Linked DNA regions of Homo sapiens. The protein of the gene in region 5 purifies or fractionates together with the protein of the main gene of each other region. This does not show direct contact. Each region holds a gene or a part of one and is shown on either strand. Other genes may lie near its edges.

Region 1 (3,500 bases), on a different chromosome or scaffold from region 5:
TGTTCTCAAGCCCTGCCAATGCTATGCTGCAGTATCCCTTGATCTTTCCCCATCCATTCCCTCTGTCTCTGCTCCAGCGTACCTCCTTCTCACCTCCAGTCTGCTTTGATACAGAGACCCTCAACTGCTCACCGTCTGTAATCACTGCCTCTTCCCACTAGTCCTACCAACTGTTGTCAGAGTTAGCTTTAAAACCACAATTTTATCATGCTCTTCTCACATCTAAATACTTCAATATTTTCCTACTGCACACAGGCATTTAATATTACAGCTGGAAAGTTACCTGTATAAAATTTAGTCTACTCTTGTCATTTTACAAGTGAGAAAACTAAAGTTCAGAGAATTGGGGAAATACGTTGAAGATTTTCCAACTCTATCAAGAGTCAGATTTCACTATTTTGCCTTTGAAAGTCCAAGAGTGACTTTGTATCAGAGTTTATTCTAGACTCTGAGCAACAGAAAATAAGCTTACACCAACCCACCACATTTTTAAGCAGACTTGGCGGTTTTTAGATTACAAATCCAGTTGAGAGTCTGACTGTATGGTGAAAGCTACTTGGTCTTCTGCCCAAATTGTCTCTCATGGGAAAAAGAGTGACCCAGCTTCATAAAGCTGGAAAGATTTCTTAGTCATCTGCATAGCTTTCCAAAACAAACAGCAAGCACTGGCGCTCCAATGCAGTAAGGGAAGCGCAATAACAGATAACAGATCCATGCACAATTCTGTAGCTATGAAGAAATGGCTTTCAAACACACAAATAAGGTATGCCCATCTCCCATCCCACACTCACAAACAAGAGAGAGGGAAAAGTGTTCATAAATTCACAGGCAGCAAGGAGCATGCATTTACATGAACACCATTTCATCATTTCAGTTCTGCACCCAAGATGGGCTCTACAGATAACATTTCAGTTACATGTTTTAAAATTTGGGCCATTTACTTTTCTTTTTTTTTTCTTCATGCTGTATTCCTATTGTCGTATGTAAATATCACCAATCACAAGGATAATAGGTTAGTTTAAAATCAGAATTTTTTGAGTTCTTGAAGTTGCAATATAAATTCTTTGTAGCATGCTTTTCTTAGTAGTAATTTACTTGAGGGAATAGGCTATCTCATATTTTATTGTAAAACCCACAGCTCAAGTGAAAATTTATGCTAAATTGTATTGAATTATATTTAGCCATAGGTTAATATCCAAGACTCAATTTCCTCATCTGTAAAATGGAGATAGTATTAGTGGTGACCACATGTATTTGTTGTAAAGATTAAGTGCATAGATTTACATAAATACATAACCTAATACCTAGCTATTATTTAACAAATTATAAGAGTAATAACAATCATAATTATTAATATTAGATACACAATGGATATGTAATTCTCATAATAAAAACATTATCTTTTTATACTTCTCATATTGATCATAAATACTTATTTTCTGAATTATCTATTGTGGCAATTTTTTTAAAGTAGATACTTAGAGACATTAAGTTCATATTTTCTTTAATGCTACAATTAAAATTAACTATAAAAAGAACTTTTTTATATTTTTAAATTACTACTGTTAGTATTTTTAAATGTAAACTATAATTTTCTTATATCAGTTATACAAATAAAGTTTTCATACTTTGCAATTCTGAATAAATTCAATTAAAAGTTAAAAATTTCTTATTTAGGGAGAAATACAAGTACAAAATAATAGTAATAAAAAGAAGAGTAAATTGAAAGGTAAAAACAAAAATTCTTAGCATCATCATCAGACCCAAGACATAAACCAAATCCACCTGCTATTTGGCTGATAAAATAATTTTAATGACTCACAAGCCTATGGTTTCATGTTGTTTTTAAAGTAACTGGATAATATAAATTTTAAAGCATTTAATTAAAAAATAACTAGTGTGATTATCTTATTTTTTACAGGTGGTGGTAGAAGTTAACAGTGAATTCCGAATCCAGGTAATATATAACAAATCCATTTTTCCAAATTTTTAAACAAGAAAATAATTTGAGAATAACAATATGTTTTCTGAAGAAAATGTATTCTCATAAGTCAAGTTCATATAATGCTAAAATTAATAGATTACCAAAATTACCAATTTTCCCAATTAAACATCCTCTATTTCTGAGATTATAACCTCTTCCAAAAATCTCAGTGGAATTTGAATTACGAATTCAAATTAATATATACCATTTCTTTATTGCTGTCATTTAAGGTAAGAGATTATAACACTAAAAATGGCACCATCAAATGGCATTCAATCCGAAGGCAGAAACGTGAATGGATCAAGTTCGCAGCAGCCTGTCGTGAAGGTGAAGACAACTCAAAGAGGAACCCAATCGCCAAAGTAGGTATCAACTCCAAAGCATAACATTGAAAATCAGAATGGATAAAGTTTCAAAAGAAACTGTCTGCTAAATATTTCATGAACATGTCTCACCGAGAAGCTACGATACAGAACAGAACTATAGTCACCTAGATGATGAAAACTGAAACTCATAAGGAGAAATTAAGAAATGCAGGTGCTCAGAGAAACAGGCAAACGTTGACTCACCTCATTGGTGAAATGCATACACATGATCATGTGTTATCCCAAACTCCAGATGAAAAAAGATCATTATTTTAATAAAGAATTTGGCTTTCAGCACATTCAAAGGAATTACTTCAATGTGTGCTCTTTTTGCCTCACAATGTATTAGAATTGAATTCCTACTTTTTTGTTTGTTTATTAACATTCACAAGGTGCCCTCTCTCATACCCCTTTTCTATTCATTTTTCCATATCTTCCTTTCTACATACACACACACTCAGAAACACCCCCCACAAATTCATGAACATACAGATGTACACGTCCACAGATACACACACGAATATACACATTCATCCACACAGACACTCACAAATACTCCCCACTAGGATTTGTTTACAGCCAAACAATATTTTATTTCAAAGAAAGAGTTCTGGTTTCTATAACCATTTATTCGCGTGGTCTCCTTCCTTTTCTGCTAATACACCCTTCCCATTTTCAGAATTCAGAGCTTCCACTCAAACCCAGATAACTCTTGTCACCTAAATAAATCTACTTTCTTCGAAAACTTTACATTTAAAACAAATTGAAGATTAAAGTTGCATGATGACAACATTGATAAACTCCTTAAGAGGGCAAAGAGTTTCCTTCTGTAGCTCCAGTGCAAGCACAGACCCTGCAAATAATACAAGATCAAATTTTAACTGTTGAATGAATGAAGTCATGCATGATGATTGCATAGACTTAGATATAGTAGGGTGATATTTCGCATTTTTTCATGTTTCATAGAAGCAGAAACCGAATTTCTTTGATTACATTGTCAGTTACCATTGAAAATATTAGAGCTGTAATTGTTACTCTTATCTAGGAAAATAATCTCCATTGACAACATTTCCTAAATAACAAGGTCATCACATGCAACAACTCTCAAGAAAGCTGTCGTATATCAAATATAGAACTCTATTTGCTCCCTC
Region 2 (3,500 bases), on a different chromosome or scaffold from region 5:
GGCACACAGCTGTGCCCATGTCCCCAGACTTGAGAGGTGTGGAAAAAGCACAGAACATTCTAGCAGGAGTGGGAACAGATCTCTCTGGCAGATGAGCGACTTGTGTTTCCAGGAAGGATTACTCACACCCCAAAAGATGGATGAGGTGACTGATGCTCCCTACACTTTCTGGCAGCGGAGGGCGTAGAATAAGCAGCCTGGAAGACCCATCAGTGCCACATAACTGAGGCAAAGCTACACCTCCTGGCTCCTGCTGGGGACTGTTTAGAAAGTTCTGTGCTCCTCTTAGGATAACCACTTAATAAAGACTGAAGCAGGGCTTTTCGTGTGTCAGGGCAAATGTTGCTTCTGGGACTCAGGTGTGAGGCCACAGGGACTTGGAAGTAACTATTGGGACCTGGGCCCAGGTGGCAGACAGCCACCCTGTCCTTTGACCTTGCTTGATGACTCGTCTTGAAGTTCCTGTGCTTTCAAATGCACGGTGCAATTCCTGCTGCCAGAACCCCTCTAACTCAAAAACGGAGAGGCAGCATGCATGTGTGTCATTTTTCCGGGCATGGTAGAGAAATCTCAGACCATGCAAAAGGAACAGAACTTTGGAGCTGGTGCATGGTGCTATAAGAAGCTCCCTCTTCCTGGATGTGTGCGAGCAGAGCCGGGTGGTCTCTGGGCGGGGCAGGGATGTTGAGGGGTGCAATTGCATGTTGGGGTGGGGAGGGGAGGTGGATGCCAGGCCCTTTAAGCTTCCTTTCAAAACTGGGACCTAGATGATTTGGAGTAGGGGGATGGCCTTGCTTTGCTATTTGTTGCTGACATTTAGAAGTGGTATCTAAGCCAGACTTGAGTCATCACTCTACAGGTTGTGTGGACAGGGGGCTCAGAGAGGCCTCCCCTGAGGCCTCTCGTGGACCCCGCTGGGCTGTCTGCCCGCTCCTCCATCTGGGATCTCCACCTGTGTTTGCAGAGGTGCTGCCATTGCTGTCTGCTGGGGAGGGCGGCCCAGGCCCAGGGCCAGAGCTGCGAGTACAGCCTCATGGTTGGCTACCAGTGTGGACAGGTCTTCCAGGCATGCTGTGTCAAGAGCCAGGAGACCGGAGATTTGGATGTCGGGGGCCTCCAAGAAACGGGTAACTTTCCCCCTTCCTTCCCTAATGAGCAGTGTATTAAGGTTCTCCGGGATGTGTATATAGAGCGAGAGTGGAGAGAGAGAGATTTTAAGGACTTGGCTCATGTGATCGTGGGGCTGGCAAGTCCAAAATCTGCAGGGCAGGCCTTCAGGCTGGAGCCCCAGGGAAGGAGGGGCATTGCAGCTGGAGTTCAAAGGCAGTGTGCTGGCAGAACGCCGCCTTTCCCGGGGAGGCCAGTCTTTTTTCTCTGAAGGCCTTCTGCTGATTGAGTGAGGCCCACCCATGGTATGAAGATGATCTGCTTTTCTCAGCATCAACAGACTTACATGTTAATCTCTTTTTTTTTTTGAGACAGAATCTCTCTCTGTCACCCAGGCTGGAGTGCAGTGCAGTGGTGTGATCTTGGCTCACGGCAACCTCCGCCTCCCGGGTTCAAGTGATTCTTGTGCCTCAGCCTCCCGAGTAGCTGGGATTACAGGTGTACACTACCACACCTGGCTAATTTTTGTATTTTTAGTAGGGATGGGGTTTCACCATGTTGGCCAGGCTGATCTGGAACTCCTGACCTCAGGTAATCCACCTGCCTCAGCTTCCCAAAGTGCTAGGATTACAGGTGTGAGCCATCGTGCCTGGCCAATATTAATCTCTAAAATATAGCTTCACAGCAACATCCAGGCTAGTGTTTGACTAAATATTTGAGTACCATACCCCAGCCCAATTGACACTTACGATGAACCATTACAGGTAACACGTGCATCCGTGTCACCATTGCCTTAACTCAGCACGGACTAACTCCGGTTGTCGGAGCCATTCATGTTTGTGACCTTATCTGAAAGCCGCTGTCCTGGAGTGACGCTGAGTGCTTGGAGTCTGGGATCGGACAAATCTGTGCTCCCATCCGGGTCCTAATGTGTACCTTGGTCCCCTCATCTGGGAAGTGGGGATAGTTGCAGTCCTACTTCATCAGGTGCTGGGAGGATGGAGTGCGAGATTGGGTGTCAAGGGTTGGGTAGAGCACCTGGCCCCATAAATGTCTGCCCTCACCATCTGCCCTTGTCCCTTCAGCTGCCCGGGGCAGCATGGGTGGCTGGCCTTGCTCCCACTTCTTGGGTGAGGGTCTGATGCTGAAGATCGCACAGCCGACACGTGGAGGAGGGAGAGCCTGGCCTTCCACCTCCTGGCCAGTGCCCTCTCCATCTGGAGCTGACGATGTATGGGCGAGCAGCTGGGGGCCATCGCTGGCTAATAGCTGGCTATGCTCTGTCAAATCATAGACACTTACTCAGCAAAGGGGCATGTGACCCCAAGAGCAGCTTCAAGAGCGCTCTCAGCTGTGTGCCCCCCCGTTCTGTGTCCTCGCCCTGCATTTCTGTGTGGTTCAGTTACAGGGTTCAGGAGACTTTGTGGCTGTCCAGTAGCCTCTTACACTTAGGCCACGGTTTCTTGTGCTGTAACAGAATTAACCTGGAAGAAGGCAGGACTCCGCCTGGGCCAAGCTTGCTGTGTAGTTTTCGGCCTGTTCCCTCCTCTCTCTGAGCTTTGCCCCCACTCTCTTAAAAAATAAAAGAGGTGTGAGCTGGGCACGGTGGCTCACGCCTGTAATCCCAGCACTTTGGGAGGCCGAGGCAGGCGGATCACCTGAGGTCAGGAGTTCGAGACTAGCCTGGCCAACATGGGGAAACCCTGTCTCTACTAAAAATACAAAAATTAGCTGGGCGTGGTGGCGGGCGCCTGTAATCCCAGCTACTTGGGAGGCTGAGGCAGGGAGAATCGCTTGAACCTGGGAGGCGGAGGTTGCAGTGAGCCGAGATGGCGCCATTGCATTCCAGCCTGGGTGACAGAACGAGACTCAGTCTCAAAAAAAATAATAAAATAAATAAAGAGGTGGGGAGGTGCCGGAAGGGGCGAAAGGGAAGAACCCTCAGACCTGTAGTCTCTAAGTCAAGGTAATGGCTGTAGGGTCCTGGGTGACACGGAACCTTTCACTTCTTGTTCTTAGGTTTTCAAGTCCAGGCTGTAGGGCCCCTGGTCACAGAGGACCCGGGTCACCCGGGACTCATCTTTCACTTATTGTTCTTAGTTTTTCAAGTCCAGGGCCCCATGGATGCCACTGAGATGATTTCAGATGTTACAGTCATCAAGAGGGATTGGGGCCGCATTCTGCCTCATTCCTTGGCTTTTGAAATCAGAGACGACATTTTCACTTTAAACAAACCCAAACCATTCCTGCTGGTGGAGGATTTCTCCTGCATCTCGGGGGTGGATTTTCACTGATTTATGTCTGCAGCGTGAGCAGTCTCTGGGCTTTTCTGCAGCTCCAGATGTTAGATGTTTTATCTCTCCGTCTTTTATCTGCTTCAGTCCTTGCCCCAG
Region 3 (3,500 bases), on a different chromosome or scaffold from region 5:
TAAAAAATCAACTATACTTGTGTAAAAAAGAGTTATCGGACTTGGCTTTGACTTATTTTTGGTATTGTGTTTATGTGGAGTTGTAACCAACAAAATCAATAAAAAGGATAAGTATATTCCAGAAACCTGTATTTACGTCTCCTTGCTTTTCCCTACAATTTGCCTGTTGCAAATTTCTAAGAACATGGGATTGTTAATGTCTCTTTAAAAGATGTCTTAAAGTAATACAGGTAAATTTCACTGTCAGGAAAGTCTGTGATGATTGAGATGTAGAACAGATAAATTTGTGGTTAACTCAGTATGAAAAGGATTGTTAGGTATAAGTGATGGCTGTGCAAGATTGCTTTAAGTAGCTAGAGGGCTTCTTGAGTGATTGTCCCCTTCTATTGGGACAACTATAATTGGAGGGACCATTTCACCTGGTATCATTTGTGGCAAGATATTTGGTGTTTTGACAGAAAAATATATTCTGTGTGAGATAGCTTGCTGGATCTATGCAGGCCTAAGGTTTTTATGATTGCAGCCCTTAATACAACTGTAAAAAAAATTTTTTTTTTGGCCTGGCATGGTGGCTCATGCCTGTAATTCCAGCATTTTGGGAGGCCCAGGCGGACGGAACATGAGGTCAAGAGATTGAGACCATCCTGGCCAATATAGTGAAACCCTGTCTCTTCTAAAAATACAAAAATTAGCTGGGCATGGTGGTGCACACCTGTAGTCCCAGCTACTCGGGAGGCTGAGGCGGGAGAATTGCTTGAACCCAGGAGGCAGAGGTTGCAGTGAGTTGAGATTGCACCACTGCACTGCAGCCTGTGCGACAGAGCAAGACTCCGTCTCAAAAAAAAAAAAAAAGATTCGTTTTAAGTGCTTCCAGGGATAGGAAGAGGAATGACAGCTGATGAGGTTTCTATATGTGCCTGGTTTCTGTTTTGGAAGCCTCCCAAACGGAATTGGGTAGTGTTTCACTTGTACTTGTGGTGGGTGTGGGGATGGAGGTAACTTACACATTGAATGAAAACTTCATGTGTCAGCCAGTTGATGAGAGTTGCCATACTATTTTGTCAGCATGTAGCAGGAAGAAAAATCTTTTAGGAGCCTGGAACTTGTTAATGCTTTTCTATTTGTTTTCTAAACTAGGTGGCTATTGAGAGTTATACAGAACATAGCAAAATAGGTAAGAATATGGCCTCTGGAGCCAGCCTACCTGTGCCATTGCTAGCCGTGCTACCTTAGAAAAGTTACATACCCTCTCTGTGCCTCATTATTTTTTTCTTCCTCTGTGAAATGGGGTGGTGATAGAAGCCTAACTCCTAAAGTCTTTGTGAGGCTTGAATGAGAATGTATATAAGGACTTAGTGCTGTGCATGGTAAACAGTAAGTGCTCAATAACCATTTTTTTAAATCAAAAGTTTTATATGTTTATTTTTATAGAGACCGGGTCTCTCCCTGTGTTGCCCAGGCTGGTCTTAAACTCCTGACCTCAAGTGATCCTCCTACCTCAACTTCCCAAAGTGCTAGGATTACAGGCCTGAGCCATTGCTCCTGGCCACCGTTTTTAAGTGTTCTTAAGAGATTTGGATAGGAGTGTATGGAAAGCGGACGGTGGAACTGAAAAGGACAACTGTATGTATAGACAACTTTTTGAAAAATTGTATAAACATACGTGATGGGTTTTTGTATCTGTCTTTGCTGTTGAGGGTGAGGAGGAGTAGGGATCAGCATGGGGACATTCTATGTAAGATTACTAACAGGTTACATTTTGAGGTTTAAATAAATGAGAAAGTCCTCATGAAGTCTGAGATATCACCTTGCCCACATTGCAAAGGAGGTCTCTGCTTTCTCAGCTTAAAGTGGGAAAAATGCTTTCTGTGGGCTTAAAATGTGTCTCATAAGTCTTCCAAATCCCTGTGTAGAAAGAGTCGCCTAGTCCTGCACCCTCAGATGTTAATTCCTCTTCTCAGGCTTTATGGACAGTGTGGTAATGGAGGGAAATAGGTTACTCATTACTGGGATTCAATTTGGCTCCACTGATGGGAAGCAAACAGTAGTTGGGTGTTTGCTTTTATTTTACACTTGTGTGACACTTGAACACATTGATGTCCTGTCTCTATATGTTCATGGATTCAGAGCTACAGAGCATATGAGAGAGAACCAAACACTGATGCACACCTCGTACCCTCTAATCTTTTCTTTTTTTTTTTTGCAGACTGAAATCAGCATGATATTTTTCTGGCCAAACAACAAAATGTGATTTTAAACTACTCAGTTTAGCTATTTTTGGGGAGTAGCAAAGTGACACAGTTGGCTGCTGAATTCTAGCAACTAAAAAAGAAAAAAATGAAAGCATAGTTCATGGAATATGTAACACTTCCATGTAAGAAAATAGGACAACTGGTCTTATTTTTGGGTCTGTGATACTGTCTTTCTAAGTGAGTGAAGCAGGGTGTTGTATAATGCAGTGGATATACTTTTGAGGAATTCATACTAGTTACAATATACATCTAAGAGGTATTTGAGTTTTCATAGCATTGCTGCCTCATGAATCCTGCAGTGCACTTAAATCAGATCTGTTCATTAATTGGGAATGATTTGGATAAGGGGACACAGCCATAAGCAATTGACCAAGCATAAAAGCATAGTCCAGATTAGTGAGGAAATATTACTGACTTTTTAAGGTTGTCTCGAGAACTTTTTAAGAATTGTCAAAAGGATTTATTTACAAAGCGGTGGTTATTTATAAATGAGTTCTACCTGTTTTTAAAATGACACTTTTCCAGAAGCGTTTCTCTTCAGTAAGTGTGGAGGCTTAGCTCTGTCTGTGGGTAGCTAAGGGTGGTTACCCAACATCTTACGGAAGTGGGGTTGGGTGGCGCTGGGGCTCTGGGAGTTTCAGATATACATATCTCTTATTCAGAATCCACACCAAAACCACAGAGACCTGGGTTGAAATTCTTAGTTCATTACAGCATTTACCTTGGGCAAATGGGCCTCACCCTTTTAATCTATAAAATGGGAATAGTAATTATAATAGCCTACGCTTACCAAGCACATGTGATCTATGCCCCGTGCTTGAGCATTTTATATGCTTTTAATCATCCCTGGAAGTATGAACCATGATTATTTCCACTGTAGGGTTAGGAAACTAAAGTTGAAGAAGGTAGGTCCAAGGTCACCGGGGTAGCAAGGCGCGGGGAGCGGTGGGGGGCGGTGACTGTAATATGTTTCTCTAATCATTGCTCAGGATTTTTTTTAAATTTTATTTCAGACCATTTGCTTTTTGAAGAGAGTATGGAAACTATTTTTCCTAATTGCACAGGAGGGCCAATTGAAAGATCTAGCTTTTTATGTATTTCACCCTGTTACTTTTCCCATATAAGCAAGTGCCATGAACACTGGGTGGAATAAAGGTGTCTTCCTGTACTTGCTACAATTAAATAAGTAAGTAATGCAATTAGTATAGGATTTTATTTGGTTACGTTGAAGAGATGACCTTTCAGCAA
Region 4 (2,800 bases), on a different chromosome or scaffold from region 5:
CAGTTGCACCCCGCACCCCTGATTTCATCTAGACTGTGCCTGTATCTGGGAGGTTTTACGGAGACTAGTGGGAACGATGGGGGATCAATGCAGCCATGCTGGAGTGGGACTTCTCTGACCTACCCACCACCCATATGTGGGAGGACCTCTGGGAAACCAGTGACGTCCCAGGCAGAAAGCCAGCCAGTTCTTGGCACAAGAGTGCCCAGAAACGTAAAGATGGATAAATTCATTATTTCAGCAAACCTGCATTGAATCTGAAAAGTCTGGGAATAAAACTCGGGAAAGAGCAAATGCATCCTCAAAGCACTCTAGGGTCCAGCGTTTTTCCAGCTGGACTTCGCGGTGGCTCCACTTTCCCTCCTCCATCCCCTCCTCCCGCCCCTGCCTTTTCCTACCCTATCCAGCTGCAGAGAGGTTCTAGCCATGTGTGTCCCAGCTGCTGTCCACGCCCATGCCTGGCACGTTTGCTGAGGGAAAAAACTCAGGCACACACAGGCTGCCGCCCACTCAGACTTTATTCAAAGACCACGGGGGTACGGGTGCAGGAAGGGGAGGAGGGGCTGGGGGGAGGCCCAAGGGGCAAGAAGCATGGCCACCGAGGCTCCAGCTTAACGGTATTTGGAGGTCAGCACGGTGCTCACAGAAGCCAGGAACTTGTCCAGGGAGGCGTGCACCGCAGGGGTGAACTCGGCGGGGAGGTGGGCGGCCAGGGTCACCAGCAGGCAGTGGCTTAGGAGCTGTGCAGAGAAGAGGGTCAGTGGGGCCGAGGGCCCAGGCCCGCAGCCGCCGCCTGCGCTACACCTCCCGCAACCCGCGTGATCCTCTGCCCTGCGAGGAAGGCGCCATCTCGCCCCTCGACCCAGATCGCTCCCGGCCCGCCGCTCACCTTGAAGTTGACCGGGTCCACCCGAAGCTTGTGCGCGTGCAGGTCGCTCAGGGCGGACAGCGCGTTGGGCATGTCGTCCACGTGCGCCACGGCGTTGGTCAGCGCGTCGGCCACCTTCTTGCCGTGGCCCTTAACCTGGGCAGAGCCGTGGCTCAGGTCGAAGTGCGGGAAGTAGGTCTTGGTGGTGGGGAAGGACAGGAACATCCTGCGGGGAGAAGCAGAGTGAGGGGTGGGGTTTGGGTCCGGGGCCAGGACGGTTGAGGGTGGCCTGTGGGTCCGGGCGGGCGAGGAGCCCGGGTCGGAGCAGGGGAGGGAGCCTCACCTCTCCAGGGCCTCCGCACCATACTCGCCAGCGTGCGCGCCGACCTTACCCCAGGCGGCCTTGACGTTGGTCTTGTCGGCAGGAGACAGCACCATGGTGGGTTCTCTCTGAGTCTGTGGGGACCAGAAGAGTGCCGGGCCGCGAGCGCGCCAGGGTTTATGCTTGGGGCGCGGGGGCACGCCCGGCCGGGCGGCGCTCATTGGCTGGCGCGGAGCCCGGGGCGCGGCCTGGACCGCAGGGGAGTCCCGGGCGGGGCCTGCGCGGGGCCGGGCGGCGGGCTCGGCCTCCCCTGGGGGTGCACGCGGGGCGGGGGCCAGGACGTCTCCACCCTCCACCCGCCACTCCACTCCCGCCCATCCCGCTCGCCCGGGGGCAGGGCGGTAGCGGCGCTGGCGGGGCCGGCCCGTTGGGGTCGGGCGCTGTCGGCTCGTGCACCCCGGAGCGCAGCGCCACCCTTTCCTTTCGGGCGCCGGAGCGTCCCTAGCGAGGGAGAAAGTCAGCCCGCACCCCCGCCCCGGCCTGGCACGCGCTGGACGCGCATCGACTCCAGCGGGATCGGGGAACACACGGGCGAGCGAGTGCGAGCCGGGAGGCTTCGCCCAATCCTGGGGCGGAGAGGAATGCGCGCACCCGGACGCCCTGGCCCATAGGAACTCAAAAGAATTTCTGCGCAGAGCCCCTCCTGCTCTCCAGCCTCGCTTCCTGCAGCTCCCTTTCCCTCTGGCGATAGTCACTAGTGTGCTTGAGTGACAGGCACCGGGAAGGAATAAACACCAGGACGCAAAAAGCACGGGGCTGGGCTGGGGGCGGCTCCAGATTCAGACTCCTCTACCCGGGGTTGTGGGGTGGCGCGTGGGGTGGTGGGTGCTGGCTAAGCCCCAAGTCATGGACTCACAGTTTGTGTGACTGACTCTCCCACTGGCCTAGAGGTCGTGGTTCACTGTGACACCCCCAGCTCTCCAAATGCTATCTGATGGAAGACTTGCTAGGTAAATACTGGTTAAACAGGTAAACAAAGCAATAGCTGGAACCGGCTGGAGCATTCAACCTCCTCTGGGAGGTAGGCAGTCCTCTAACCATCACACAAGTACACACAGAGGTGCAGACCTCATCACAGGCCCTGAGGAAGTCTGGAGGTGTGGACGAGGCATTCAAGGTGACCAGGGTTAGTCTGAGGGCTTCCTGGAGGAGGTGAGACTTAAGGATATGTATTAGGTGGAGGAGGTGGAGGAGGGAGGAGGCTTGGCTCGGGGAGGGGAAAGGACAGAGGAGACAAGGGCCCTGTGGTTGGAGAATGGAGGTGGGGAGATGTTGGGGTGATGAGGCTGGCCAGCTCCTGCAGGGTGAGGAAGGAAGGGGTGGACTTCTGGGGAAGGGTGGGAGGTGCAGGAGTGCCAGTGGGTGCATCCCTGTGCATGAAAAGTGATGTTTTTTGGGGGGATGGTACTGAGGAGAAAACAGCCTGAGAAATCACTGATAAGTCATTTCCTGGGGGTCTGGCAGAAGATCTTGCTTTGAGGAGTGCATCAGGTCAGCACCCTTCAGCCTGCTCCCTGCCCTGTCTCCCCAGGCCCTTACTCAGGCCCTGC
Region 5 (3,500 bases):
GGTTTGCAGTAACAAAGGACACTGCTGTCACTCAGGAAATTCCAAAGGTTTCAGGAGCTCTGTTCCTGGAACTAGGGACAAAGATCAGATGTATTTTTTATACTCTATCCCCTGGGCCTGTGTTAATCAGAGGTTGGTGTCATGGCCACGGATAACTTCTCCATTACTCCATAGACAAAATGTAAAACACCACATGTCACTTCCCCCTTTCCCTGCTATCATACCCCCAAACTTACAGTATCCACACCCATCCTCCCTGCTTTCCTGCTGCTGCCATGAAAAAAATGGCTTTCTCCTGGTCTGTGGCCAGTGATAGTCTCAATCCTGCCTCCCACCCCTTCCTTAAGGGCCTCTCTGATTGCTTACGCTCCGCTCCCCCATCAGCATGCAGTAGGCTCCAACCCCTCCCATCTTACAAAGCAAAACCAAAAAAGCCTCTCCCTTGACCTCCACATCTCTTCCTGGCAAATAGTCTATCTCTCCCAAATTAAAAACAAATAAAATATGTAAAACTTGCAAATATTGTATATGTGTAAGTTAGAAGGAATAACAATAAAACAGAACATGCCCAGGCCAAGAAATAGAGCACAGCCCCCTCCCACATCTTGGCTGCCTCCCCCACCAGAGGCAGTCATTACCCTGCATTTTGTTTAGCAGTTCCAAATTTTCTTTGTAGTTTTACCATATATGTATGTATCCTTGCATATTCTAGCAGGGCATAGCAGATAATAAAGAGGTAAAATATAGTCTGGTATGTTTTTAAGCTTCATGTACATGGAAGTAGATGGTTTCTATTCTGTGGTTGGCCTTTTCTCCCTGCTACGTGGAGAGATTCATCCTTATTGGGCAGCTCTGCTTCCTTCTGGTTTTTTTTTTTTTTTTTTTTGAGACAGGGTCTCGTTCTGTCGCCCAGGCTGGAGTGCAGTGGCGTGATCTTGGCTCACTGCAGCCTTGACTTCTCAGGCTCAAGCAGTCCTCCCACCTCAGCTCCCCTAGTAGCTGGGAGTACGGGTGTGCTCAGTGAGTACGGGAGTACTATGTTTCTCAGGCTGGCCTTGAACTCCTGGGCTCAAGCAATTCTCCCCCCTGGGTCTCTTTCACCGCTCTGTGGTGGTCTCTTTCGTGAATACTCTGCCACTTGCCCGTTGTTAGGCATTTGCATTGTTTCCAGGTGCTTGTCACACTCACATTGTGCTGTGAACATTCCTGTGTTCGTCTCCCTTGTGTGCCTGAGAGAGGATTCTAGGGTGTGTATGCAGGAGTGGAATGGTTTGGTCAAAGGGTATGCCCAACTTTTCCAGGAGGGAGGTATCCATTTTCACCCCACCAGCCCTGCACGAGTGTTCTATTGTGTCATAACCTAACGTTTGATAATTTCACATTTTAATTTTTTTTTTTTTTGAGACAGAGTCTTGCTCTGTTGCCCAGGCTGGAGTGCAGTGGCACGATCTCGGCTCACTACAACCTCTGCCTCCCAGGTTCAAGCAATTCTTGTGCCTCAGCTTCCAGAGTAGCTGGAATCACAGGCGTGCGCGCACCACCATGCCTGGCTAATTTTTTTGTATTTTAGTAAAGACAGGGTTTCACCATGTTGGCCAGGCTGGTCTCAAACTCCTGGCCTCAAGTGATCTGCCTGCCTCGGCCTCCCAAACTGCTGGGATTACAGACATGAGCCACCATGCGTGGTCCACATTTTAATTTTTGGCATCAAACTTTTTTGGGGAAAAAATTCTCTTTACATGTATCCTCAAAATATGCACAACTATGATATATCAATAAAAGCAAACACACAAAAGAATAAAAATAGATTGAGAAACAAACAGAAAAAAATACCTAGAGAGATCTCTGCTTGCTGCCTCATCCCTCAGCCTTCTCAAGTGCAGTGGTACGATCTTGGCTTACTGCAACCTCCACCTCCAGGACTCAAGTGATCCTCCCACCTCAACCTCCCTAGTAGCTAGGATTACAGGCATGCACCAATATGCCCGGCTAATTTTTGTATTTTTTTAGAGGTGGGGTTTTGCCATGTTGTTCAGGCTGGTCTCGAACTCCTGAGCTCAAGTGATCCACCTGCCTCAGCCTCCCAAAGTGCTGGGATTGCAGGTGTCAGTCACCACACCTGGTCAGGCTGTGATTCTCAAGCATATTATAATCACCTGGAGAGCTTGTTAAAAGCAAAGATTTTGGCTGGGCGCAGTGGTTCAAGCCTGTAATCCCAGCACTTTGGGAGGCTGAGGTGGGCAGATCACCTGAGGTCAGTTCGAGACCAGCCTAGCCAACATGGAGAAACCCCGTCTCTACTAAAAATACAAAAATTAGCCGGACGTGGTGGCGGGCACCTGTAATCCCAGCTATCCGGGAGGCTGAGGCAGGAGAATCACTTGAACCCGGGAGGCAGAGGCTTGCAGTGAGCCAAGATCACGCCACTGCACTCCAGCCTGGGCCACAGAACGAGACTCTGTCTCAAAAAAAAAAAAAAAAAAAAAAAAGCCCAGGGAGTTCAGTTCAACAGGAGAACTTTGTTTTTCACAAATCCCCCAGGAAATTCTGATGCAGGCGGCCTGAGTCCCACTCTTCCTTTTTTTCCCCAGTGTCTTTATGCTGAGGGCCTGACCCCTGGTCTCTTTTCAGGTGAAAGTAGTTACTCCTTGATCTCAATTTCCATCTAGCTGTGCCCTTCTGGATCTCTGCAGCCTGTGGGCTCCCCTGCCTTCCCCATGGGCAGCTGCTACTAGGCATATCCACTTAGATGCCCTCCAAGTTCTCTAACCCAACATATCCAAAATGGAGCTCACCCCATTCCCTGAATCAGCCCACTCTCTCCAGAGGGCTCTTAGGCCATCAGGCCCTTTGGGTCTGCCTCAAGGCTCTCAGCATAAAGTGCGTGATTGGCCATGGGCTGCACCTCCTTGCCCTAACCCCAGCCACGTACAATGCATGCTTTATGCTCTCACATGCCCCCTTGCTGCTGTTCCCTCGTTCTGAAACCCTGTCCCAGACTTGCTGACTCCAACCTGTCCTGCGGGTCGCCACGGCTTTTGAGGGGTGGGGGAAGGGAAGGGCAGGTACTGATGGGAATGCTCACTTCCACTCCAGGACTCTTGCTTACTTCTTACATGGCTCATAAAGGTGCAGCTCGTGAGGTTACCTGTCTTTGGTAATGCCTCTAGGTCCAAGCATCTTACTTTTTTTTTTTTTTTTTGAGACGGAGTTTCGCTCTTGTTGCCAAGGCTGGAGTGCAATGGCGCGATCTCAGCTCACCGCAACCTCCGCCTCCCGGGTTCAAGTGATTCTCCTGCCTCAGCCTCCCGAGTAGCTGGGATTACAGGCATGTGCCACCACGTTCCGCTGATTTTTTGTTTTTGTAGTGGAGATGGGGTTTCTCCATGTTGGTCAGGCTGATCCTGAACTCCCAAGCTCAGGTGATCTGCCCACCTTGGCCTCCCAAAGTGCTGGGATTAAAGGCGTGAGCCACTGCGTCCTGCCCGCATCTTGCATCC
Region 6 (3,500 bases), on a different chromosome or scaffold from region 5:
AGCTCAGCGGTCCTCCCCTTGTCTTCCACTCTTGTGGCTCTCTGAGTGGGGGGAAGCAAATGTGTTTTGGTTGTGTGCTATATGGTTTTAAAGCAGATTATTAGGAAACCATGGTGAAGAGTATTGGGGTGCACTGCTCCCCCAGCCCACATACATACTTGTGTGTGTGTGCACGTGTGTGTGTTTCAAGGCCATTTCGACAACCTGAGGAAAGCTATGAATTTCCTGCTATAATTTCAGCAGGTTTCATGGTTCCTGCCAGGGCCCTCCATGAACCATAGTTTTGGTTATTTCTGATATGGTAGAAGGTGTACTTTGTTGGGAGCCAGAAGCCCTGTGTTCCCTCTGTGGTGTTGCTGCCAGCTTTGGGAGACCCCTATTAGGCAAATACACTCCTTCCTTTTAAAGAAAACTTTGATTTTCCCCTGCTATACAATTAGTACATGTATACTGTAGAGAACATATATAAACAAAAGGAAAAAAAAATCACTTTTAATCCCACCACTCAGAGAGAAGATCATTATTACTTTTTTGATGTTTCTTTCCGAAAGATATTTCTGTGCACATACATAAATTATTTTACATACAGAGATGGGTTCATACACTTTACACATGGGCTGCTTTCTGCACTTGGTGGTAGGCTGTGACCCTTTTCACGTGCCATTAAGCTCTCTTCCTATTTTTAATGACTTCATACTAATCCATTTTCTGGATATACCTCATTTTACTTGATAAGTCCCCTATTTCTGGACACTGGTGTTGTACAGAAATCTTTTCCTTTATCTAAAATTGGAGATTTCATTTTCTTTTATGAAAGCAATACAGAGAGCATGAGGGAACTTTGTGGGGTGATGGAAATATTCTGTATCTTGATCATAGTAGTGGCTACATGAGTTTATACATTTGTTGAAACTTAGCAAATATATACTTAAAATGGGTGCATTGTATTGTATGTAAGTTATACCTTAATAAAAGTGGTTTATTTAAAAAGTGATACTAATGTTAGAGATAGGATTTTTAAAGGTCTTTCCCCTCACCAGTAAAAAGGAGGAGGGGCAGTTCAGTTTTTAACTGGGAATACACAATGTTTATGACTCATAGTGAGTTAAATAAAAAATTATAATGCCAAGTAACTATTGAAACTAAGGCCCACTTTTCAAAAAAGATGCCATGTTTTTTATAATCACCATCGACTATACTTGGGAATCATTTTTGATGTTCTCTCAGAACCTCAGTCTGATTAAGGAGAGGAAAAAAATTCCAGAGCTGGAATTCCTTCATGGAAAATTCCCTGCTACCTTTCTCATCAAGGCTCAATACAGGGCAGCAGCAACAGACTGGTCTGCATTCTCCCTTTTACATGTGAAGGAGAATGGGTGATTGTCGTGTTCTGCATATTTTTAGGCTATATGATCCAGCTGCCGGGGCTGAAGTTACCTGTTTGCCTATAGGGAAGAAGGCAGAGGAAGGTTCAATTGTCCATCCCAGAGTTTAGCTTCAACTTTTGTTACTGTTGTGTAGTTTTTTTCTCCAGTTTCCTACTTCTTTTTTTTTTTTTTTTTTTTTTGAGATGGAGTTTCGCTCTTGTTGCTCAGGCTGGAGTGCAATGGCATGATCTCAGCTCACCGCAACCTCCGCCTCCTGAGTTCAAGCGATTCTCCTGCCTCAGCCTCCCAAGTAGCTGGGACTACAGGCATGTGCCACCACACCTGGCTAATGTTGTATTTTTAGTAGAGACAGGGTTTCTCCATGTTGGTCAGGCTGGTCTCCAACTCCTGACCTCAGGTGATCTGCCCGCCTCGGCCTCCCAGGGTGCTGGGATTACAGGCGTGAGCCACCGTGCCCGGCCAGTTTCCTACTTCTAACCCTTAGGTAACTTAAGTATCCTGGATGTTAGTGACTATTTTTTCTAAATGATTTCCAAATTGCTTTGTTGGCAAGAATCCACCTCTAGGATGTCCTTCCCGTATTTTGCTTCATCCTTGAACTAACATCCTAGGAGCAACACATGCTGCCTCTTTTTAAAGGGGCCTGGAGGCGTGGGGCAGACCCTTGAAGGAAGGAAGGAGTTGGTGAGCTGAGATGGTGAATGAGTTGACATTGTGGGCTTCTTTCAGAATCCGTTTCTGAATCTATGTAGCTACTTGATTACAGTTTGGGCTTCTCACCATGATCAGAGCAGTCTTGGCCTATTTTTCTCTTCATTTAAAGGTACAGATCTGTTGTGAGCAAACAGGCCTTACTCTTGGCTTTTCCCTTCCACTGTTGTACCATCTTTAATATCCCAAAGCTGTGTCTTAGAGTCTCACTGATTTGAATAACCTGCCACCCAGAGTTTTTGTTGAGTGCCCTAAACAGTCATTTAAACCTTTTACTTTTAGTTTATTTGGCACGTGAAAAGGGTCACAGCCTACCACCAAGTGCAGAAAGCAGCCCATGTGTAAAGTGTATGAACCCATCTCTGTATGTAAAATAATTTATGTATGTGCACAGAAATATCTTTCGGAAAGAAACATCAAAAAAGTAATAATGATCTTCTCTCTGAGTGGTGGGATTAAAAGTGATTTTTTTTCCTTTTGTTTATATATGTTCTCTATAGTATACATGTACTAATTGTATAGCAGGGGAAAATCAAAGTTTTCTTTAAAAGGAAGGAGCGTATTTGCCTAATAGGGGTCTCCCAAAGCTGGCAGCAACACCCTGATGCTTGTTTTACTAGAAAGGGAAACTTGAAGTCACTTGGGTCTACCAGCCCAGTTAACTCTTTAAAGAAAATAGGGTTCTGTTTTGGTGTGGTTCTTTGTTTTTGTTTGGTTGATTGTTTCATATGAACCCAAACTTAACAAGTTGTGTTTTTACTTTAACACTTTTATTTCTTTTATACAAACTTTTTCCTTTGTCACTTCAGTTTTTAACGCTGTTAGTAAGTAGGGCCTCTGGTAGGGCCTCTGACAATCAGCCGCATCTTTTCTCTCTCTCTCTTTCTCTCTCTCTCTCTCTGCATATACATATGTGTATTCTCACTGTATCTGTAGTTTTCTGAGTGTGTTACATAGGTGTTTCTAATCTTCTAATCTCTGATGGTTTTGCCTGTTTTAGGCTGTGATAATGCCATTATCATCTGGAATGTGGGAACAGGGGAAGCCCTTATAAACTTGGACGATATGCATTCAGACATGATTTACAATGTGAGCTGGAACCGGAATGGCAGTCTGATCTGCACAGCTTCCAAAGACAAGAAAGTGAGAGTCATTGATCCCAGGAAACAAGAGATTGTTGCTGTGAGTATTCCTAGGATGAAAACTCAGTAGTTGGAGCACTTGAGTGAGTGTGAGCTTTCTGCTTTTTAAGGCAGGCAGCGGTACTGGTCAGTGGGACCCTGTTGTGTGTAGACACCAACTGTGAATAAGAGAAGGCTTATAAAGGCTTCTGTCTCCCCAGTTGTGCTTCTCTCCAGAGTTGTAAATTTTCCAGCTTTTACTCAAGTCTCTCACTTTGTA
Region 7 (3,500 bases), on a different chromosome or scaffold from region 5:
TGCTAGCCCTTTGTGAGCCAATGGTAAATGGGTGCTAAATAAAACAACTAGGTCTTGAGATACATTAATTGTAAATGTCACAGAACCAGTACTTTCCTCAATGTGGCTAAGATAGTTGATGGTTCCTTTTTCTTCTGCACTGGTCAGACCATATCTGGGCTATGATGTTTGCTTCTGGGCCACACACTTTAGAGGGAAGACAAGCAGCATGTTGGAGTCTGTTTAGGCGAGAGATCCGGCAGGGGAAGGAGTCTTGGTGAATGAGGGGTGGAGGAGCTGCAGGATGGGAATAGAGGCCTGAACTGCTACCATGACATATTCAAAAGGCTGCCGTGTGAAGCCAAGTTATGCTTGTCTTTTGTGGTCCCAGTTGATCACATTAAGACCTCATGGGGCCATAGAAAAGCTAGAGGGAGACTGATTTGGGTTATTCATAAGAAGAACTTTAAGTCTGTTATCTGAGGGTAGAATGAGAGGCATGTTTTAGATTCTTTAGATTCTTTACTCTTCTGACAATCATGTGTTTTTGTAGCTGTTTCCTTGTGGTCATATTAATTCTGGTACCACTTCATGAACCTTTTATTACCCATCTTTGTTTTCTTTTTTTTTTTCCCTTCTTAACTCCCTGTTTAATTTGTGGTGAGGGTGAAAGAGGAGATAAAGAAAAAAAAGGGTCAACTTGTAACTTTGCCTTTTCTTTTCTTTTCTTTTCTTTTTTTTGCCCTCAGTAACTGAGGGCAAACCCATCAGACAACCAGAGCCATAATTTGTGGTCACCGCTGAAATTTACCTTGGAAACTCGGTTAGTATGGCTGTGAAGAGGTATACCCCAGCTCCTTAACACAGAGTTAATGCTTAATCTAAGGTTTTAAGTTTCTTAGAAAAGAAAAACGTGTACATTCTTTTGTTTCTTAAACATCTAATTTTGCCCTCCTCCTCTTCTCTTAGAGGCAATTGCTTTTGGATCGTTCCATTTACAATGGCGCAGAGAACTGGACTCGAGGATCCAGAGAGGTATCTCTTTGTGGACAGGGCTGTCATCTACAACCCTGCCACTCAAGCTGATTGGACAGCTAAAAAGCTAGTGTGGATTCCATCAGAACGCCATGGTTTTGAGGCAGCTAGTATCAAAGAAGAACGGGGAGATGAAGTTATGGTGGAGTTGGCAGAGAATGGAAAGAAAGCAATGGTCAACAAAGATGATATTCAGAAGATGAACCCACCTAAGTTTTCCAAGGTGGAGGATATGGCAGAATTGACATGCTTGAATGAAGCTTCCGTTTTACATAATCTGAAGGATCGCTACTATTCAGGACTAATCTATGTAAGTATTTCTTCCAAATAATCATGTGAAGTGGTAGCTAGGAATTAATGTAAATTATACATCTTGTCATAATCAAATGAGAATGTGGAATACCCAAACTCTCTGTTTAACATTTCTATTTCTCTTTAAGATAGAAAGATTTGTTGCTTGCTTACCCATGTCTTGCTTTTCTTTGAATCTTAACACATTAAGTTTAAATAATACAGGCTGCAATTACATATAATAAAATGGCATTTGAAGACTTTTGTAGTGGTCTTCTGGAGCATAATAAGGTGGGAGAGAGCATGTAACAGGAAGACCAGAAGGTTTAATAAGGTAAAGAGAGTTGCATTAATTGGACGCAGACAGCAAAACGGTCAAAAATCAAGTGCATACCCAAGAGTAAAGTGGAGGGGCTGTAAGCTGAGAAATTTCTGTGGACAGCATGAACAGCTTCACTGGATGTAGTAGGGAAGTAGGAAAGATGAATGCTGAGGTTTTTAAGAGGAAACAATTAGGGTAAGATTGAGGCTGGCTGGGGTCGTCCTGTGGTTAGCAGCTGACATGAATGTTGGAGTCACCGACTTTGTCACTGACCATGTAGAAGAAGTTATTGAAAATCATAAGGGATAATGTAGAGAGGGATAATGTAGAGAGGAAAAATGTAAGCCAGATACTAAAAGAAAAATCTAAAATGACAAAATAGGTTTGAGGGAATGGTAGACAGAGGTGGCAATGATTTGAAGAAGGTGGCACGTGTGGGACTTAAACTGACGATGAAGGGAAGTAGGAAGAAAAGTTGATGGTCGTGGTTTGAAATCGGAAAAGGGGTGTTGAATTTTACACAAGGAGTGTGCTACTGAAGGTCATGAATAATTCAAAACTTCAGTAAATCAGAGCTAGTTTTCCTACAGAATTAGTTTAAGGAATATTTATTAAGCACCCCCTGTGCTCTAGGTGCTGGGGATAGTACAGTGAAGAAGACAGGCCAGGTCTCTCTGCCTTTCTGAAATGTCCAATGAGGAAATGAAACAAGGCTATGGAGAGAGTAAGTAGGAGAATGGCTTTCTCCAGCGGGTCAGTTAAGGGCTGTTTGTGAAGGTAGCATTTGAGCTGGAGTCTGACTGGTGGGAGGCAGCTAGCCACGAGAAAAGCTGAGAAAAGAATGATTCATTCATGACCTTTGCCAGAGTAGTTTCAACCAAGCCTGATAGATCTCCCTTATTTTCTTCTCTATGAGGTAGGAGAGTAAGAGGCCACAGGGTTGGAACGGTGGCTTGAGGAGAATGGAAAGGCTTAGGAACAACCCTTTTCCAATTTCAGACTAAGCCAGGGATAAGAAAGCGACTGGAGAGTGGCGTTGAGAGTCCAGCTGAGATTGAATAACCACGTGTAGGGTGACCGCAATTTTGCCTGGCTATGTGATTTTGCCAGACCATGGGATTGTCTCAGGTCTGTGAGTGTGGGGGGCTTTGGATCTGCATGGCTTCCACAGTGAGAGGGGGATTCAGTGGCCGTCTTTGGAGTCCTCGTTCGGTAGGAATGGGAGTCTGGGTGGGAGGGGCTGATGGATCAAGGCCTGGAAGTTTTCAGAATGTTGAGGAACAGGGATCATGGGGTGAAGGAGTGAGAAAACTGCAAAATTAAGAGGTTATGGTCAGATTGTAATGTCGACATGTAAGATTTGAGAGGTTGATCAGTTTCAGATGAAGCCCATTGCAATAAATTGTGCAGGTATGGAAATGTGATGTCACCATCAAAAACTGTGCAGTGTGAAGAGGAGCCAGGCTGCTTTTCTGCCAGCCTTCACCTTAATTTCCCACACTGGCAGCTGGAGGTAGCTGCAAAGGGTGCTAAGTAGAAAAGGAATGAAAGAAAGGACAGGTGTTTTTTTGTTGTTTTTGTTTTTGTTTTGCAGCCATTCCACATAATTCAGAGATTTTACAGTTATCTCTTACTGAGTTTGTTGGATTTTTTTCCAACTTAACTCATGGACAACCTGAGTGAACTTCTGAGTTTCTTTTCAAAGCACAGCCTCCTTCTACAGGAGAATCTGAGTTTTTCTCAAAGTCTCAAGGTCACACAGAGGTCGGGGTTTGGGAGGATCATATCTTCAATTAGTTGGGTGGAGAAAGGGTTCTTACCTAAGGTTCTAGTTGGAGAACTTGACTCCAAAGAAGTCTGTGTCGTTAAGAGG

Evidence for each region.
Region 1: the proteins of ARMC12 (region 5) and DSG1 purify together in Homo sapiens (affinity purification with mass spectrometry, with the first as the bait; one large-scale study listed by BioGRID). This does not show direct contact.
Region 2: the proteins of ARMC12 (region 5) and FBLN1 purify together in Homo sapiens (affinity purification with mass spectrometry, with the first as the bait; one large-scale study listed by BioGRID). This does not show direct contact.
Region 3: the proteins of ARMC12 (region 5) and PTPRG purify together in Homo sapiens (affinity purification with mass spectrometry; one large-scale study listed by BioGRID and IntAct). This does not show direct contact.
Region 4: the proteins of ARMC12 (region 5) and HBA1 purify together in Homo sapiens (affinity purification with mass spectrometry, with the first as the bait; one large-scale study listed by BioGRID). This does not show direct contact.
Region 6: the proteins of ARMC12 (region 5) and CORO1C purify together in Homo sapiens (affinity purification with mass spectrometry, with the first as the bait; one large-scale study listed by BioGRID). This does not show direct contact.
Region 7: the proteins of ARMC12 (region 5) and MYH10 purify together in Homo sapiens (affinity purification with mass spectrometry, with the first as the bait; one large-scale study listed by BioGRID). This does not show direct contact.

The regions. Positions count from the first base shown.
Region 1 is NC_000018.10:31,324,660-31,328,159, forward strand, and holds part of DSG1 (desmoglein-1 preproprotein), read left to right. Parts: intron 1-1,921; coding exon 1,922-1,957; intron 1,958-2,214; coding exon 2,215-2,346; intron 2,347-3,500. UniProt on the Homo sapiens protein: Component of intercellular desmosome junctions. Involved in the interaction of plaque proteins and intermediate filaments mediating cell-cell adhesion.
Region 2 is NC_000022.11:45,526,883-45,530,382, forward strand, and holds part of FBLN1 (fibulin-1 isoform D precursor), read left to right. Parts: intron 1-964; coding exon 965-1,127; intron 1,128-3,500. UniProt on the Homo sapiens protein: Incorporated into fibronectin-containing matrix fibers. May play a role in cell adhesion and migration along protein fibers within the extracellular matrix (ECM).
Region 3 is NC_000003.12:61,568,071-61,571,570, forward strand, and holds part of PTPRG (receptor-type tyrosine-protein phosphatase gamma isoform 1 precursor), read left to right. Parts: intron 1-3,500.
Region 4 is NC_000016.10:175,223-178,022, reverse strand, and holds HBA1 (hemoglobin subunit alpha), read right to left. Parts: upstream 1,344-2,800; 5' UTR 1,307-1,343; coding exon 1,212-1,306; intron 1,095-1,211; coding exon 890-1,094; intron 741-889; coding exon 612-740; 3' UTR 501-611; downstream 1-500. UniProt on the Homo sapiens protein: Involved in oxygen transport from the lung to the various peripheral tissues.
Region 5 is NC_000006.12:35,740,032-35,743,531, forward strand, and holds part of ARMC12 (armadillo repeat-containing protein 12), read left to right. Parts: intron 1-3,500. UniProt on the Homo sapiens protein: Essential for male fertility and sperm mitochondrial sheath formation. Required for proper mitochondrial elongation and coiling along the flagellum during the formation of the mitochondrial sheath.
Region 6 is NC_000012.12:108,658,519-108,662,018, reverse strand, and holds part of CORO1C (coronin-1C), read left to right. Parts: intron 1-3,099; coding exon 3,100-3,281; intron 3,282-3,500. UniProt on the Homo sapiens protein: Plays a role in directed cell migration by regulating the activation and subcellular location of RAC1. Increases the presence of activated RAC1 at the leading edge of migrating cells.
Region 7 is NC_000017.11:8,620,726-8,624,225, reverse strand, and holds part of MYH10 (myosin-10), read left to right. Parts: intron 1-948; 5' UTR 949-979; coding exon 980-1,324; intron 1,325-3,500. UniProt on the Homo sapiens protein: Cellular myosin that appears to play a role in cytokinesis, cell shape, and specialized functions such as secretion and capping. Involved with LARP6 in the stabilization of type I collagen mRNAs for CO1A1 and CO1A2.